Regions from separate parts of the Homo sapiens genome. Here region 1 is linked to region 2. Evidence: fine-mapped expression QTL. A gene starts in region 2. The other region holds a variant in brackets. All regions are shown on one strand. Distances are from middle to middle.

Evidence for each region.
Region 1: its variant is fine-mapped to the expression of SORCS3 in whole blood (INTERVAL, PIP 0.93).

What each region holds. Positions count from the first base shown.
Region 1 is chr10:104,591,666-104,599,993 of GRCh38, reverse strand. LOC105378464 (a long non-coding RNA gene) reads right to left here. Exons shown (of 8, transcript XR_007062285.1): 3 at 5,159-5,278; 4 at 3,882-3,986; 5 at 2,500-2,625. Among named protein-coding and RNA genes, the nearest start is that of SORCS3, 45 kb to the left of the region's middle. The variant T/CAGT (reference allele first, on the strand shown) is at 4,771.
Region 2 is chr10:104,637,025-104,645,352 of GRCh38, reverse strand. SORCS3 (sortilin related VPS10 domain containing receptor 3) reads right to left here and starts at 4,063. Exons shown (of 27, transcript NM_014978.3): 1 at 3,399-4,063. The coding sequence starts at 4,025.

The DNA of each region.
Region 1 (8,328 bases), 45 kb after region 2:
TAGGCTAAAAGATACAGCAAATGCATTTACAACTTTACCCAAATGTCTCACTAGCAGTGATCTGGAGGAGGTTCAGAGAGGGCTGAAAACCAGGAGCTCAAATAGTCTATGAGGATAATATATTCTAACTACCAAATGAACAGGGCAATCTGAGAATATTGGATTCAAATGGATTTTCCTGTGTTTGCAAAACTGCTGCAGAACACACCATAAATGGGGCTTATGACATATTTAAAGGACCAGGCTTCCTGCTTCCAATATTCTGGCAATTCTTGAAATTTCTGGGGGCAGACACTCTCCTTGCAACCAGCGTGGTACTACTCAGGCACGTTATTCATTAAACCAACAAATACTATGCCTCCAGCATTACTTGTGTGTTCAGGGGAAGATAAGAACAGAAATGTGGTTCCACTCTCAAAAAACTTACCATGTGACCCCAGTGGATTTAAAACAGAAGTTAGTTGGAGCCTATTTATTGACAGGTACCAAGGCCCACCCAAATTGATTCAAGGAGAAAGAAGATTTGTTGTCAGGAAGGGAAGAATCTTAAGGAACTTAGGTGCAGGGAGCACAGCCAGGCTTTTATCCACTTTTCCCTCTCTCTGGGAGCACCCTTATCTCCATTCTCAAGGCTTTTCTCACCACTTCTTTCTCCCTCCACCTGCTCCCTCTGAATCTATACAACCAATTGGGCATAAAGGGAGCAGGTGCTCTTGATCTGACAACAAAACCTTCTGCAAAGGAATCAAGAGACTGCCCAAATGCTAAGAAACACTGAAAGTCACCCACAATCATGGCTTCCCTGGGAAGGAAGGAGATGCAGCCCTGGGGGCTCTTGCCCCATTGACTGTGCCCACAGGGATGGAGCAGACTGGCTCATTTTGCATGGGCTTTGAAGTTGGTTCCCTGAATCTTATTCCCTCTTGGGAGAAGGGCCTTCTGCAAAGAGGCTACTTTCCAAAGAGGGATCATCATTTATAGAAATGTCGGGCCAGGCGTGGTGGCTTATGCCTGTAATCCCAGCGCTTTGGGAGGCTGAGGCAAGAGGATCACGAGGTCAGGAATTTGAGACCAGACTGGCCAACATGGTGAAACCCTGTCTCTACTAAAAACACACAAATTAGCCAGGCGTGCTGGTGTGCGCCTGTAATCCCAGCTACTCAGTAGGCTGAGGCAGGAGAATCGCATGAACCTGGGAGGTGGAGGTTGCAGTGAGCAGAGATCACGCCACTGCACTCCAGCCTGAGCAACAAAGTGAGACTCTGTCTCAAAAAAAAAAAAAAATCCACCTGTATGGAGGTCAGAGCTGCAGTCACTATGCCTCCCAGGACACAGAAGAAAAAAGGCCTCTGAGGACCTGTACTCTTGAGCCTGCAAGAGAGTACATGGCAATTACACACCTGCCTCAGACCAGAACTTAATGACTTACAATATTATCTACTCTACAAGCAGTAATGGAGAGCCTGCAGCAAGCCTATGCCTGGCACAGGGGGATCCCGAATTAGGAAACATAGTCACCAACTACGGATTCTGGATCCTACTGAAGAGCACAAACATGCCTGGAACCAACCACAATGTAAGGCAGAAGGTGGAGCATGCCTCTAAACAAGAGAGGAAACTAGCATTTGTTAAAAGACAGCTCTATGCAGGCATTTAAGCCTCCCACTCTCCCTGAAAGACACATGTTAGTGCAGAGAGTTAACTCAGGCTCAAAGAGGCAAAGGACTTTGTCCACAGCCACACTGTTAGTAACAGGATTTGGGCCCTGTTCTTCCCAAAACAGTAGGTTGCTTCCTTCTAGAACAATGCATTGTCCACAAGGGATACAGAAGGCCCAGAGAATGCAGAAGAGAAAGTGGCTCCTCAGGGGGAGCGGGCAAGACTGCATTGGCAAGATTTCTAGAGAGTTGGAAGAAGTGTTACATAAAATTAAATTACTAATGTACTTTCAACAGTGTGTGGGGAAGCAGATGTTGGAAGATTTGTTTGAAGCAGGCACAGTACGTGATTGACGATGATAAAGACAGCCTAGGAAGTACCAAGAGCAGACCCCAAAATAGCACTAAATGAGGCCACTTAGCGTAGAAGCAAATAGATCTATATCCTCACCCAGCCCCATATTACAGTGTTATATGGTTAGTGTTTCTAATGATACTTCTGGATTATGAAGAACTTGATGAATTGCACTGACATGTTGTCTAAGGTAACTAGAATGTGCCGTCAGGACTCTCTTTCTTGGCTCTGAATGGATCTTGGGCTAGCTGTGTGGTCTTGCACAAGTCAGTTAATTCCTCTGGACTTCAATCACCTCACTGAAAAAATAAGAGCTGTGACAACTCTAAAAGTCTTTCATTGGAAACAGAGTGATCCTGGAGGGAGAAATCATTCCTGCCCATCCCACCACAGCAGTGCCGACAGCCCCTGTGGGAGGTTGCCACATTCTTCCTTCTGGACCACCCAATCCATATATGGTTGTAGGCGCTAAAGACAATATCTTACTGCTTCCTCTTTCTGCTCCATTTCCCTAAAGGCCTTTCTTCTTTGCAATGGCTCTCTTTTGCCCAGGTTGTCACTCTTGATATCACGACCATACATGTTTCAAAATCAGGGGTACTTTGCCACTTACTAAAAAGGAAAAATATATATTACTATGACAATTTTTTTTTTTTTTTAGATAGAGTTTCACTCTTGTTGCCCCGGCTGGAGTGCAATGGCGCAATCTCAGCTCACTGCAACCTCCACCTCCCAGGTTCAAGCAGTACCCCTCCTTCAGCCTCCCAAGTAGCTGGGATCACAGGCATGCACCACCACACTTGGCTAATTTTTTTGTATTTTAAATAGAGACAGGATTTCGCCATGGTTGGCCAGGCTGGTCTCAAACTCCTGACTTCAGGTGATCCACCCACCTCGGTCTCCAAAAATGCTGGGATTACAGGAGTGAGCCACAGCACCTGGCTGGCAAATTATTTTTACTTAATATTTTTAAGGGCACAAGTCATGCTGTTTTTATACCAAGCTAGTTTTGCTATCTATAGGCAACGTGATTTCTACAAAAATGAAAACATGTAGCAGAGAAACCACTGATGCCCCTGGCTTCTACACTGCAGAATGTCAAGACTGAATGCAGGCCTGAACAAGCCATTCTTGTTGTGCTAGAAGCCTTGGCAATGAGGGGAGGGTCTTAGAGTTCATTTTAGTGCCCGTCCCCATTGATTGCCCTATCTCATGTTCAAAGGTCAGGCCAATCCAGATCAGGAACTGTGATTTGGCCTCAGCCCCCAGTTCTGTCCAAGGAGGGTACTTGAAGGTACAGCAGTAGAAGTCCAGTTCCTGGAGCCCTGGAGGTTCTTTAACCTTCAGAGCACACTGTTTATAACCAAATATCCCTAAGGGAGATAAGACCTTAATCCAGGGGTGATAAATAGGTTTCATCTAAAGTACCAACTTTGATCAATTCAGTAATGTCTTCCTGGAGCCTTGTACTGAGAAAGATTCTTAAACTGTTCCCCAGAGTGATATTCAAAAAGGTTAACAATCCACCAATCAGCACAAATGGCCAGCTGCAGTGCTGGCCAACCCTGCCCTGCCCAACCCTCACCCTCACCCCAACCCTTCTGGGATCTTCCAGGTGCCCTGCTGGTTTGGGTGTTAACTCTTTAGTTGCTGGGTCAGCATAGGGAGGTCCAAAAGGAGCCCTCCAGGCCACAGCTGTTTACCAGCTGATGCAGAAATGGTTCGATGTCTGAACCATCTGATTCTAAGCTCAATATCAGCTACAGCTGTCTCTCAATCCATAGGAAGTGCCAGCGGTGAATTAGTAGTGTCAGCCTTTGAGGGGGGAGGGGAAGAGAGTGCAGCATCATGTTGAATATGTATTTTACCTTTTAAAGAATCCATGTTTTTCTCAGTGGATCATGGGACTAGAAACTATTGTGTTGGCATTGCGAATTTTGACTGGACACAAATAGAGAGTTGAGAGGATGAACCTGAAACATATTCATTATCATTAAAACTTAGTAAAGAATCATATGTCTGAAAAAAATTTAAATTTGCGAAATCAAGCCTAAGGAAATTGAACTTAAAAACATCATTATGGAAAAAAAAACAACCTGAGTGATGACTGAATTCTACCAAAAATTTGAGGAACTAATCCTTTCAAACTCTTCCAAAAAAAACTGGTTATATGGAATAGAATTTCTCATAATGAAAATGGAAATGAAAACCAAAATGATTGAATTTTTTTTAAGAGACAGGGTCTTGTTCTGTCACCCAAGCTGGAGTGCAGTGGCACAATCATAGCTCACTGTAGCCTCCAACTTCTGGGCTCAAGCAATCCTTCTACCTCAGCCTTCTGAGTAGCTGGGACTACAGGCTAATGCCACTGTACCCAGCTAATTTTTAAAACTTTTTGTAGTCATGGGGTCTCAATATGTTTCCCAGGCTGGTCTCAAACTCCTGGCCTCAAGAGATTCTCCCATCTCAGCCTCCCAAAGTGCTGAGATTGCAGGCATGAGCCACCAGGTCCAGCTTCGGCTGGAAATTTTTAGGTGCATCAGATAAAAAATGATCAAAGAATTAAATTTACTTATTAGAATTTACCCTATAAAATCATCTTAACAAAAAAATTAATGTTTTTATTATTCTAATACAAATAATTTTATTTACAGACCTGAAATCAAAATGTACTTGGGGGTCAAAATAGCAAGGAACAAGCTTTCAAAAAGTCAAACTGGGCTAGGATTTGTCAATGTTTCCTATCATTTTGAGCAG[T/CAGT]ACCCTGGGTCCTCTCTCACAATTAGGACTTGTGTCACAGTCACAACATAAACCATGTGGCAATTGCTGGGGTGCAGGCGTAGGGCATGCCCCCTACATTCCTCCAGCAACAATATGCTGTCACATCTTCCGGGGGAACCCCAATTTAGAATCACCATTGAATTGATACACTGTTCTTGCGAGTGCATGATTTTCCCACTAGAGCAGGAAAAACTGTTTAAGAAACTGTGCTTTAAATATTGAGCCCTTCCCTTATCTCCTTGTGTGCCTCTCCCCTACCCTCTCTACCCTGAGTGATTAAACACCTGTGCCCTGTTCCCCACCTGCTCCCTCACTAGTCTGCTCCATCACTGTCTCTCATCGGACCACTCTGCAATAACATACTCACCAGGCCTCCTGTTTCCACTCACCCTCTTTACAATCATTCTTCAATCTGTAGCTGGAGAGATCCCTCAAAAACCTAAGTCAAATCATGTTGTTCCTCTTCTTAGAGCCATTCAACGGTTCCCTATTGCATGTAGAATTAAGCATAAAATATAAAATCCTTATTCTGGTTTATGAAGCGTTTCACAATCTTACCCCTGCCTACTGTACCAGATATATTTTGTACCCTCTCCTGCCTTTCTCCCCTCTTCTCCTGCGTTTCTTTCATTCCTGTAAATTCCCACTGTAGATCCTCAGCACTGGCAGTTTCCTCTACCTGAAGCATTCTTTCCCTGATCGTGCCCTGTTTGGCTTCTTCTTGACTTTCAGGTCATAGCTTCTCAGTCTTCTGAGAGATCTTTTCTGACCATTACCCCCAAACCGAAGAAACCACAGTTACTATTTCATCCTGCTTTAATTCTCTTCATAGCATTACACCACTTTTTTAATCTGTTTAATATTTGTCATATCCTTCATTACAATGTTAAGCTCTCTAAGAGTAGGGACTAATTTGATCTTGTTCACCATATGTAAGCACCCAATATATATTCATGAATAGGTAGATAATGAATGAATGAATGAATGAGCAAATGAACATAGGTAGTACCTTAAAGACTGCTGAAATTTTAGGAGCCAGTGCTGGGACTATCAAAGAGAAAAGAAGATAAGCTGACTCTTCCTTCTCTCAACCTAAGATGCTGCTCAAATTTGGCCTTTCCCTCAGGAAGCTTACGCTACCCACAGAGGCCTCACGTCACTGCTTCTATAGAAGTAATACACATTTGCAGGTAACCGTTTTCTCCACGGTGATATCACTGATGCCACCGTACTGTATTATCTTCCACATTGTTTTGCTCTGCCTCTTCATCTGGTTTCAATCTTCCCAACAAGAGTAATCTCCTTGCAGGCTTGAACTATATCTTTTGTGACCTTCAGTTCCTAATAGGCACCCAGTAAGTGTTTTATAAACCATATAAGTTCAGGCTTGGGGGTAATCTTAAAGATCACTTTCTTGCAATTCCCATTGTGGTGATAAAAGAGAGCAGAGACCTAGAGACTGAAGTGACTTTCCCAAGGTTATGTGGCCAGCTAGAAACAGGACTGGTCCTCAAACTTGGGTTTCCTGTTCCCAGGCCAGTGTTCTTTCTACTGTGTCAGTGGAGACCTTGTTAGAAATGCAGATTTCTAGGCACTCCTCTCAGATCTTCTTTAGGGACCCGGAATCAGGTACCCAAAGTAACTGTGGTGATTGTGACTCCAGGGACCCAAAGATGACACTGCTTCTGTGCAGGTTGAATCGTATGAAACACCTGACAGTTTTTGACCTCCAAAACCACAATTTCATGTTCGATGTAATAATATTCTCTTGGGTATAAAGCACTAAGTATGAAAGAGGAAGAGACCCAGGGAAGAGATGATGGCTCTCCAAAAAAAAATTAAAATCTGAACAGAAGGATAATCAATGGATGCCTAAGTGGAAATTTCATGAAGACAGAGAGAGCTTCCTTTTCTGGACCAAAGCTGCCCTGAGGTGCCAGGGAGGTTTTGGGGTGTAACCAGCCATAGCTTTGTCCTCAACCCTGAAAAGGTTATAGCAATAATAATCGTGTTTAAAGTTGGTATTTTTTGAGAGGTTGCGCTTTCCAAAGACCACTTTAGGCACAGGTATTAACTCGTCCTTAGAGCAATCCTATTATTATTGCTCTCACTTTACAGTTAAGGGAACTGAGACAGGGAGAGGCTAAGGAACTAGCCCAGGGTTAGGGTTAGGAAGTGGTGGAGACTATTTCTGCACCCACTACACTATTTTGAAGATGTTCCAGGGAAAATTGGATGACATTTGGCAAGGACTTTGGAAAGTCATCTCCTGCATGAAGTGAACAGTTGAATAAAAGACCTCCAAAGAAACTTCCAATCCTGGTGTTTTAGGAGTCTAGGATTCTGAGAAAGGGGCTCCAGTAGAGGAATGCTTCACCACAGTGTCTTTTTACCCAAGCACTCTCCTCCCTGCCTTCTTCCTACCTGCCTTTCGTTCAGGCACACAGTGTTCTTGGGTGGACTTACAGGGGTTGATCTAGAAATGAGGGGTTATGAATTCCCATTTATTCTACAGCTAATACTGTGCTAGGCACTACTGTACCCACATAAGGCATCATGTGTATATACTCCTCCTAACACCTCTGAAGTGGGTACATGCCCTCATTTTACAGACAAGGAGACTAAGACATAAGAGAGGGCCCTGGCCTTAGCTCGTCAGTGACAGAGCCAGGATCGGGAACATGGGTCTGTTTCCAGAAGCCTTTGCTCTTTCAGCAAAACCACAGAATGCCTAGGAAGGTGGCTGCAGAAAAGAGCTGTCTCTTCCCTGTTCTTCTCCAGTGGGGTCTGAGAGCCCAGTGGAGCTAAAGGCAAGGAACGGAGTTTTTAAATTCTTTGTTCAGGCTGCTGCAAAAGGCAGGTACCTTCCACACCCTCAGCCCCTATATCAGCTAAGCCCACAATCAGATGAACTTATCCCTGGATGTTTCAACATACTATGACCTATCAGAAGGCATGCGGTGGGATAAACCATGTGTCTTCTCCAACTTTAATTGATCAACAAACCTGGAAAATCACAAGAGTCTGTCCAGACAGTCCAACAACAAATAAAAGGAAGATCAAGATGTGCATTAAACATTTAAAATCGGGACCTAGCCCAGCCCTCCCGAACTGTTCTTCTCTTCAGGTGGGATTAATAGAGCATTTGCTGAGCCGTCAGCTCCCCTTGCCACTGAGTGAGAACCACTTCCCTGCAAGGCCCAGGGAGCAGGCACCTCTCCAGCATCCTAGCTCTGGTTCCTGCCACAGCAGGGACAGATGCTGTTTCCTTTACTTCCCTTATAATGATATCATTTACCTTGTGGGTTCCTTTGGCTGGTTTTTGTTTTATATGCTACAGGAGTTCTGAATTAGCCTCTCTCCTCTACCATCTGCTGATGAGAATGACGACATTTGTGAAAAGCAGCTACAGAGCCTCTTTTCCCTCTTTACTTAAAACCAATGAGAAGGAGATCTGGGACCTGGGCTCCAGACCAGACTCACTGCTTCTCCACCATGGGGCACCAGGGCCAACTAGCATCTGGGATTTTACTATTA
Region 2 (8,328 bases):
TCATTTGAAGGAAAAGGACAGAATAATGTGTTTTTCTGTTTCCCTGTAAGCCACGGGGACTGGGCTCCCTCTGGGTGTTTTTGAAACACTCTCTAACCCATTAATCACCAGGATTCCAGCTGGAGGCAACTGGAGAGAAAAAATAGCAAATCGCTCCTCCAGAGTAAAGGGTCCAAGGCCAAGTCCACTCACTTTCCAGCCAGAGCACCTGGCAGGCAACATGGTCAAGAGGTGGTACCCAGATCCCATGCCCTCCTGATTCCTTTGCCCAAAGCCAGTTGCACTCCTTCTCCTTTGTCCCCAAAGCCATCTCTTCTCAGTCCTGGGACCAAGGCAAATACCCAGCCCAAGCCTTGGTCAAGGGTCTCCTCCTGCACCCTCAACCACCTGGGGCACACACTGGACCAATGGGGTGGGCTGAAGGCCCTTCTCCTTCATGTCCCACCCTGCATCCCTGACTGTAAACTCAGTCAGAATGGAGTTCAATTTTCAATTTCATAGGGTTACTGAAAACGCTCCCCAAAAGGGAACTCATATCAAGCAATCAGGTGCATCAGAGACACTTGGAAGAAGAGCAAGGAAACCCTCATTGTGTTAAAAATTAAACTGGTGGCCTCCTGAATAAGGACATGTCTAATACTCCAGAAGCCAGAATAAAAGATAAAATTCTCTTTCCACGTCATAAGAGCCTGGAGCTAGGCCCCATGTTCTCTGTTTTACGGACATCTCCCTCCACTTTGAAACCAATGATGAAGGAATCTTCCCAAAGTGTCCTCATCCCCATCACTCTTCACCCTGGCTTTTATTTACAACACCTTCTTTTCCTGCCATCAGGAAAGGGGGACAGGAGAAAAACCAGCTGGGTCAATGTTGCTGAAACTGGTTTCCCAGTGACTCTCCAGGAGATTTCCTTAAAGTCTCAAAGACAGGGCCATGTGAGTATGCTTCTCCATCTTCTTTACACAGGCTCACAGACCTGATAATCAAGGATCTCTCTCTCGTATTGCCTACAAAATGTGGTCAGAAGAGACAGGTCCAGCCTAGGGGCTAAAGAGGCAGTTATTCCCCAGATTGGAGAGAGAGGACAGTGCGTGGCCCTACATCCACCTGTGGTGCTCTTGCATGGGCAGTAAGGCTGGCCAAGAGCACAACCAATAAGTCCCTGTGGGCTGTTCATACATTGTCCAATCTCATTGCTGTCACCAAGGTCTCCAAGCCCAACTGCTCCAGTCCCCAAGCCCCTTTGGCCGTCATTTGACTGAAGAGTCATTTCCCCAGGGAGCACGGGCCAGACCTGCCCCTCACCTCTTCTGCTGCACAACTGCTTTGAAGATGAGCAAAGAAGGCCATGCACAGTTAACTGCTATTTGCAGGAAGCATTTTCTCTAAAGTCCCATCTTCAGAGGCTTTGTAAATACTCAAAAATAATCCTTAAAATAAAAGCAGAGACACAGAAAAACTCTTCAGGGAGGGTGAATTTATATTGTCCTAATGTGGCAGTAGGGAAGCCACAGATGTAAAGACATTGCATCCTCCTCTTCCTAGGATATATTTACTTCCACACATCCTATCCATCCATCCATCCTCCTCACCAAGTAAGAACCCCAACACACACACACACACACACACACACACACACACACCCTAATTATCAAACTAAAATGAAGTTGGGATTCACAACCCCTGCTGTCAGAGAATCAACCCTGAGGTCAGAGAATCTCCCCCCAGCACACACATATCCAAGTCCTCTTGGAAGGGACTTGGAAGTCTTCAATCACCCAGCCCTGCAAAGGCACACATTGTCCACCCCTCTCGCCAGAGCTGTCAGCCCGAGGCTACGGGGGTCTTCATCCCAGGCAGATGAAGCCCGCCATCGCGCTGCTGCGAAGCTGGACTTCACTGGTCCTTCAAGACCAGCATGGGCTACCCAGGCTGGGCTGCCCGCGCTGTGCATCATTAGAAACCAAGAAATCTGCACTTTGGTATTGCTTATGTACTACCTTCTGCGGACCCCTCGCTTTCCTCTTATTAGATACCCAATCCTGGACATCCCAGGCTCTGTTAAAATAAGGCAAAAATTTCCCAGAGAAATTTTGTCAAACACCGGTCATGAAGAGAAATACAAAACGGCAGGGAGTTGCGGGGTGAGTTCCTATCAAATCAGTTCCCCAAGGCTGCTTGTACAGACACCCGTCATCCTCCGCCTGGAGCGTGCACCCTACCCAACGCCAGGTTCTGATCTGAACCATGGAGCCAGAGAAGAGGAAAGGATTTTCCAAATCTGGCTCTAGTAGGGACCGCGGGAGGGAGGGAAGTCGGGGAGATGGTGGGAACCTGTCCCCCGCCTTTTCTTTGCTTGGCTGCACAGCGCTGGGTGCCGGCGAGGTAGGGGGAGCCCCTCCGGGCACGCGCTGCGGGCCGCTGCAGCTGCCAGGCAGGCGCGATGCTCAGTCGGGCGCCCAGTTCGGAATGCCGGAGTAGGCCAGACCGGGCTCAACGACGCCACCTCTCGGTACATCCTTGTCCAGGAGAACCCGGTGGCGGGGAAAAGCGGGTGGAGAGGTGTGCAGGAAGCTCAGGCACCCAACTCCGCTCAGGGAGCCGTTTGTGGCGCAGGACGCAATGGTGAAGTCGAGAGTTTTCTGCTGAGCGACTTCCGTGTGCCTGTGCGTGCGTGAGGGCGAGCGGTGTGGCATGAGCGCTGGATGGGTGTGGAATTTCGCTTCACGCTTTAAACTTTTTTTTACGGCCTCTGCTACGGCTTTCCAGGGCCGCTCCCTGGACTTTGAAGGAGGAACCGGGGTTACCTGAAGGCCAAGGCTGGGGGCCGACTTGGCCGAGCCTCCCTCTTGGGCTGGAGGACTGCGCGCCTGGAGCGGATAGCAGCGACCCCGAGGCGAGCAGGAGGCTGGGAGTCCGAATGGCCTTCCGGGTTCCCTTTCGCGTGACGGGAGGGGGGGTGGGGGTGGGGTGGGGGTAGGGGGAGCCCGGCAGCCGCAGGAATCGGTCTGTTCAGCGGCTCCCGCCCCAAGTCAGCCCTTTTTCTCATCCAAGAATTCAAGCACCCCGCAAACAGGAAAACTGACCCTCCAAGCCAAGTATTGGAGAAAGTGAGCACAGATCCCTCCCCCACTCATCTTTAAGAAGCCCCTTCCTCCACTCCCCTCCCGGCGGCCGAAGCCTAGGGTCTCCAGTAAACAAACACACACAGCGTCTAACAACAAACTCCGTTAACCTGTTGGGGGCGTGGGGGGAATCGGACAAACCTGTTATCTCGAAAAGTCGAGGCGTCCCCCGCCTCGACCCCCGAGCAACTATCTGTCCCTCGCTCCCACCCACCCCCCCATTCCCCTTCGGTGTCAGGAAACAGGCGGACCCGCCGCCGGGTGGGTACTCACGCTGCTGTTGTGTCCCGACCAGTGCACCATGGCTTGGTTGTGGGCCGAGTCCCCGGTCAGCGCGAAGGAGGTGCTGGGCAGCCGGAGGTCTTCAGCCGCCGACCCCCCAGCCCGCGGCGCCTTCACCTCCTCCCGGGAACCCTTAGCAAGGGGACGGCTTCCTCTGGAACCATCGGCCGGAGCAGTGGCCCAGGCGTCCCCGCGTTCCTGGGTGATTGGGGGCTGCGCCCGGCGACTCCTCCTCGCGCCGCCAAGCTTGGCAGGAGCTGGGATGCCCCGGCCCCGCCGCTCGCCTGCCGGTGATGTCCCTCCGGCTTCCACCTGCATCTCACCGCCTCTGCCGCCGCCCTGCTGGGGCAGCAGCTCTGGTCCGGCCCGGCGCCCCAGCACGGCGGCTCTCCGCGCCGACGCCAGCTCCTCCGGCCACTGGCTGGCCACTGCCCGCGGCGAGAGTGGAGACAACGCCGGTGGCCGCGAAGCCGGGGCCGCCGGGCGTCCGGGACCGCCTGTCGCGTCCCAAGTGATCTCGGCGCCGGCCAGGACCCACGTCGACAAGAGTAGGAGCCCCGTCCGGACAAGCGGCGCCCCCGGCCTGCCTGCGGGGCGCTCCGTGCGCGCCGCCTCCATCCCGCTGCGGCTACCGCGGCTCGGGCTGCCGAGTGTGTGGCGCCCGCCGAGGTGCGGGTCCGGCGCGGGGGGTGTGCGCGCGCCGGCGAGCGAGCGAGCGTGTGTGTGTAGGGGGAGTGGGGAGGGGGCGGCCGGGAAGGAGGTGGCTCCGGCTGGCGCGCCTCGCCGGTCCTCTCCACTCTTCCCTCCTAGCTCCCGCTCGCCCGTTCTCTTGTCCAGAGGGTGATTCCAAACCCGAGGAAAATTAATAATTGCCCCTTCGGTGCTTTCTTTCTTAAAATCAGATTCCCCCCAATCCTCCCCACTGAGCTCCTCCAGAAATTTGGTAAAAAGGAGTAATCAAAGGTAATAAGAAAATCTTCTTAAAATATGAAAATCAAGCCGGATCCAGGAGGGGCCGGCAATAGACCCCAATCCCGAGTCTCTCCGAAATCCAGCCTCCAACGTGCTCCCGGCGAAGAGTTGGGAGCCGCTTCTGGACGCGTTTGGGGGTTTACTCTTCGGGCCTGTTATGAGGGGCGGGAGATGGCGCGCGGGGAGGGTACAGGGGTCTCGGGGGAGAAGGAGGAGGAGTTGTGTGCTCAACGCCAACTGTTCGCGTTCTAGAGCCGAGAGGGAGCCAGGTGCCTCCGCGCGGGGAGGCTGCGCACGGAAGCCAAGCGCGGGATGCACCCTGGACTCTGCTCGCCGCTCCCTGGCCCGGCCGGCTCCCGGCCAAACCCCGCCACCCAAGGCCTGCGCCCCCGCGCGGGGGCGTGGGGAATGCGTGCGTGCGCGTGCGTGCGCGCAGGCAGGCGGGCGTGAGGCGAGGGGTTCGCAGGGGGCCGGCGGGCAGACCGGGCGCTGCCGCGTGGGGGCACCTGGCTGAGCCGGGCCGGGAGCGCGGCTGGGTGTGAGGGGGCGCGCGGTTCCGTGCGTGCGCGTTTGCACGAGCATGTGTGCACGTTAGTGTGAGCGATGGCAAGTGGGGCGGGGGCGGGAGGTGTGCGCTCGGCTTTTGGTCGCGTGCGGATCACGCACGGGCTGTGTTTGCATTTCCAGGAGCCTGCGAGTGGTCAAAGAGGCAATGCTGAGAACTAGGCAGGCCGCTCTCGGCAGCCCCCTCCTCTTGGCGCCCCGAGCACCCACGGCCCCCACTACAAGCGGTTAGAACCTGATAAAGCCTCCTAGGGGATGAGGGAAAAGAGGCGGAAGGCCCCGGTGGGATCGGGGACTTGCCAGATCTTCTCGGTTGAGGGATTCTCCTTGCCCCGACCTCCCGGCCAGAGGTGGGGCGAGAGAGTAGTCGAGATGTCTGTTCTTCCAGGGAGGATCCAGACCTCATTTTGCTGCCTAGGATTTTGAGGTCGTGCCCTCACTCTCCCCAGTCCGTTTCTGAACGGACTCAATTGTTTCAAAGTGTCGGCCGCCAGTTAAGAGGGTACTCAGGCGGGAGCCGCGTGGGCTTATCTGGTCCCCAATCCGCTACTGCAGGAGTGTAGCCTGCGCGCTTGGTGCAGCTGAGATCCTTCGTGACCGTAGGAAGAAGGAGACTTCAGGTGGGCTGAAGGGAAATGAGCTAAACCCACAGACGACCTCGAGCTGCGGTTTACAGGCCCCAGGACATGTGGTGTAGCTCGCCGCCTCCGAGAAGCCCCTGGGATTCTAGGGGTTGAAAAGTCTGAGACTAGAGGAGCTAGAGGAGGAGCTATTAAGAAAGGAGGAGGCAGGAGGGAGGAGGCTTAGGGAGAGAGAGACAGCCTCCAGCCCTGCTCCTCCCCTTCGGGAGTAGATAGAGTTCCTCCTCTCTAGAAGATGGTTAAAGTGGAGCGAGAGGGAGGGGAATGCGCGGAGAGGAAAGAAAGGTGAGAGGAAGGAATGAAGGAGAAAATAGAGGGAAAAGGGGAGAGAGGAAAGACAAGATGAAGGAGAAAAGGGGCGAGAGAATGGTGCAAAAGGAAGAGGGAGATAGAAGAGGAGGCGAAAGGGCGCCAGGTAAGAGCCAAGAGGGATGGAGGAGGCAGAAGAGGCGACTGAGAATCTAAGCTGGCCAAGGAAGAAGACATCCAGCGATTCCCGAGAGCCCCCGCCCTCTTGAACTTGCCTTTCCACCCGGTGCCAAAATGGCAATTAGCAGCGGGGGAGGCTGGGCCAAAGAACCAAGCCAGCGACAACGTCCGGCCCAGAATGGTGCGGGTCCTGGCATCTGTGGGTTTCCAAAGACAGGGAGTAGCGGGTATTCCTAAGAAAAGTTCCAGCGCCGCAGGCCCAGGTGGGCGCGGGATCGGGCGCTGGACGAGAGCCGGCCATCCGCGAGTTCCCAGCGCCCCTGCCGGAGGAGGCCCGGCGCTGCAGCCCGAGCCGAAGCTCGGGGTTCGGGAGGGACGCGGTGCTGCTCTTCTCTTCAGGCTCTGGGCGGAGGTGCCACAGTATAAGAGATCTGGGCGGACCCGAGGCTCACACAGCCCGGAGGAGTGTGGTCTCCCAAGTCCTATGCGCACTGGGGAGGTGCACCATCCAGTCCCCGCAGCTTCCCGCGGCCTCTGAGCAGGAGCAGTCGGGTGCAAAAGAGGCAGACGCTCTGAGAGGGGCCTCCTTCTGTCTCTCCTGTCTGAAGAAGGCCCTACCAGATGGAACCCGGGCAGAGTTGGATCCTTGGGATGGGCTTGAGGAGATGTAGCTTAAAAGCTTTTGTTTGAAAACAAACAAAAAAGGAAAGACTCCCGCAAGTGTGACATTTTCACATGCCTCCTGCACCAGTTCGTTTTCTTGGCCTTGCTCCCATCAATTACAGTCTTCTTCCACCTGCAGCCTCTCCCTCCTTCACCCTTTGCCTGAAAATCCTTGCCCTCAGCCCTGAGCTGCCCCTGCCCCCACCCCCAGCCCCCTGCCTCCAACCCCCTGCTTCCGAGTCCCCATTAGCCTTCTCTAGTGCCCAAACTTCTCCCAGTAGTTCTCACCTGAACCCACAGTATCCTCTTCCTCACTCCTGGACTTTTTGCAATTTGACATCTGCTTTTAGGCGACTCAGTCAAAGGCCTACCCCAACACGCCTGACAGCCTCACTCAACAACCTCTTCTTCCCGCATGTGTAAACTTGTCCCATCTGAAAAGGTCTCCTTTGATCTACATGGTACTAGGATCTTCTGGGTCCTCCCTGGCCAGCCTCAGTCAAGCTTGTCCTCTTTTATCCACATCTTAAATTCTGAGCCCCAGCCTCCATCATTTTCCCCAATTCTCCGTGCTTGGCTCTCATTCTGTTTTCCCTTTCTCCTTGTCTGAATGAGCCCGGAGATCAGGCCCATTTCTGTCCTTCTACTACCATTTCCTGGTGTTGACTCCTGGATCTACAACTTCACCACATCCCCTCTTGAGCTTCACACCTGACTTCCTCATTGCTTCATACGTGTTATGTGTTCACCTTGAAACCCATATGCAGCAAAACCTAAAACCATCACCCCAACATCTTCTTAGTCACCTAGACTAGACACTTGACTTGCAAGCTTGACTCCCTCTTTTGGATCCCCACACCCATAACTTGTCTCGTCCTATTTTAAAAAGCCTTTTTTTTTTTTTTTACCACTCCTCTCCTGTTCATTCCTAGAGTCACTGCCTTATATCTGACCCTCAACATCTCTTGCCTAAGGTTTTGCAATAGTTTCCTCTCTTCTCCTGGTCTTCGGTTCTTTCCTTCTCCTAGCCAGCCTCCACACTGGCACCTTCAAATAGAAATGTAATGTAAGCCACACAGGAAATTTTAAACTTTCTAGTAGCTTTATTGAAATAAAAAGGAACCAATGAAATTAACTTTAATTTTTATTGAACTGAAGATACCAAAAATAGTTTCAATTTGTAATCAACATAAAAATTATTGATGTATTTTTACATATTTTTGTACCAAGTCTTCAAAATCCAGTGTGTATTTTATACTTACAGCACATTTCCGTTCAGACCACCCACATTTTTTCACTACCACATTTCATAACCACATGTGACTAGTGGCTACTGTTTTAAACAACACAGCTCCACACTGTTGACAGAAATAGCCTCTTAAAACATAAGGAAGATTATATCATGAATTGCCCTCCTCAAAATTTTTCAATGACCTACCATTTTTATAAAATCCAAACTTCTTAGAATGGTATCCAAAGCTCCATGTACTTGCCCCACCTCCATGAACTTTCTTACTGTATTCCTTAAGCCTGGAATGTGTCCTCTGCCACAGTATTCAACATGGAAGGGGCTTCATGGTAAGAACCCTTCTTCATGGAAGAATCCTCTTCCATGGAGCTTGCCTCCACAGCCTCATAGTACTTGTTATTAT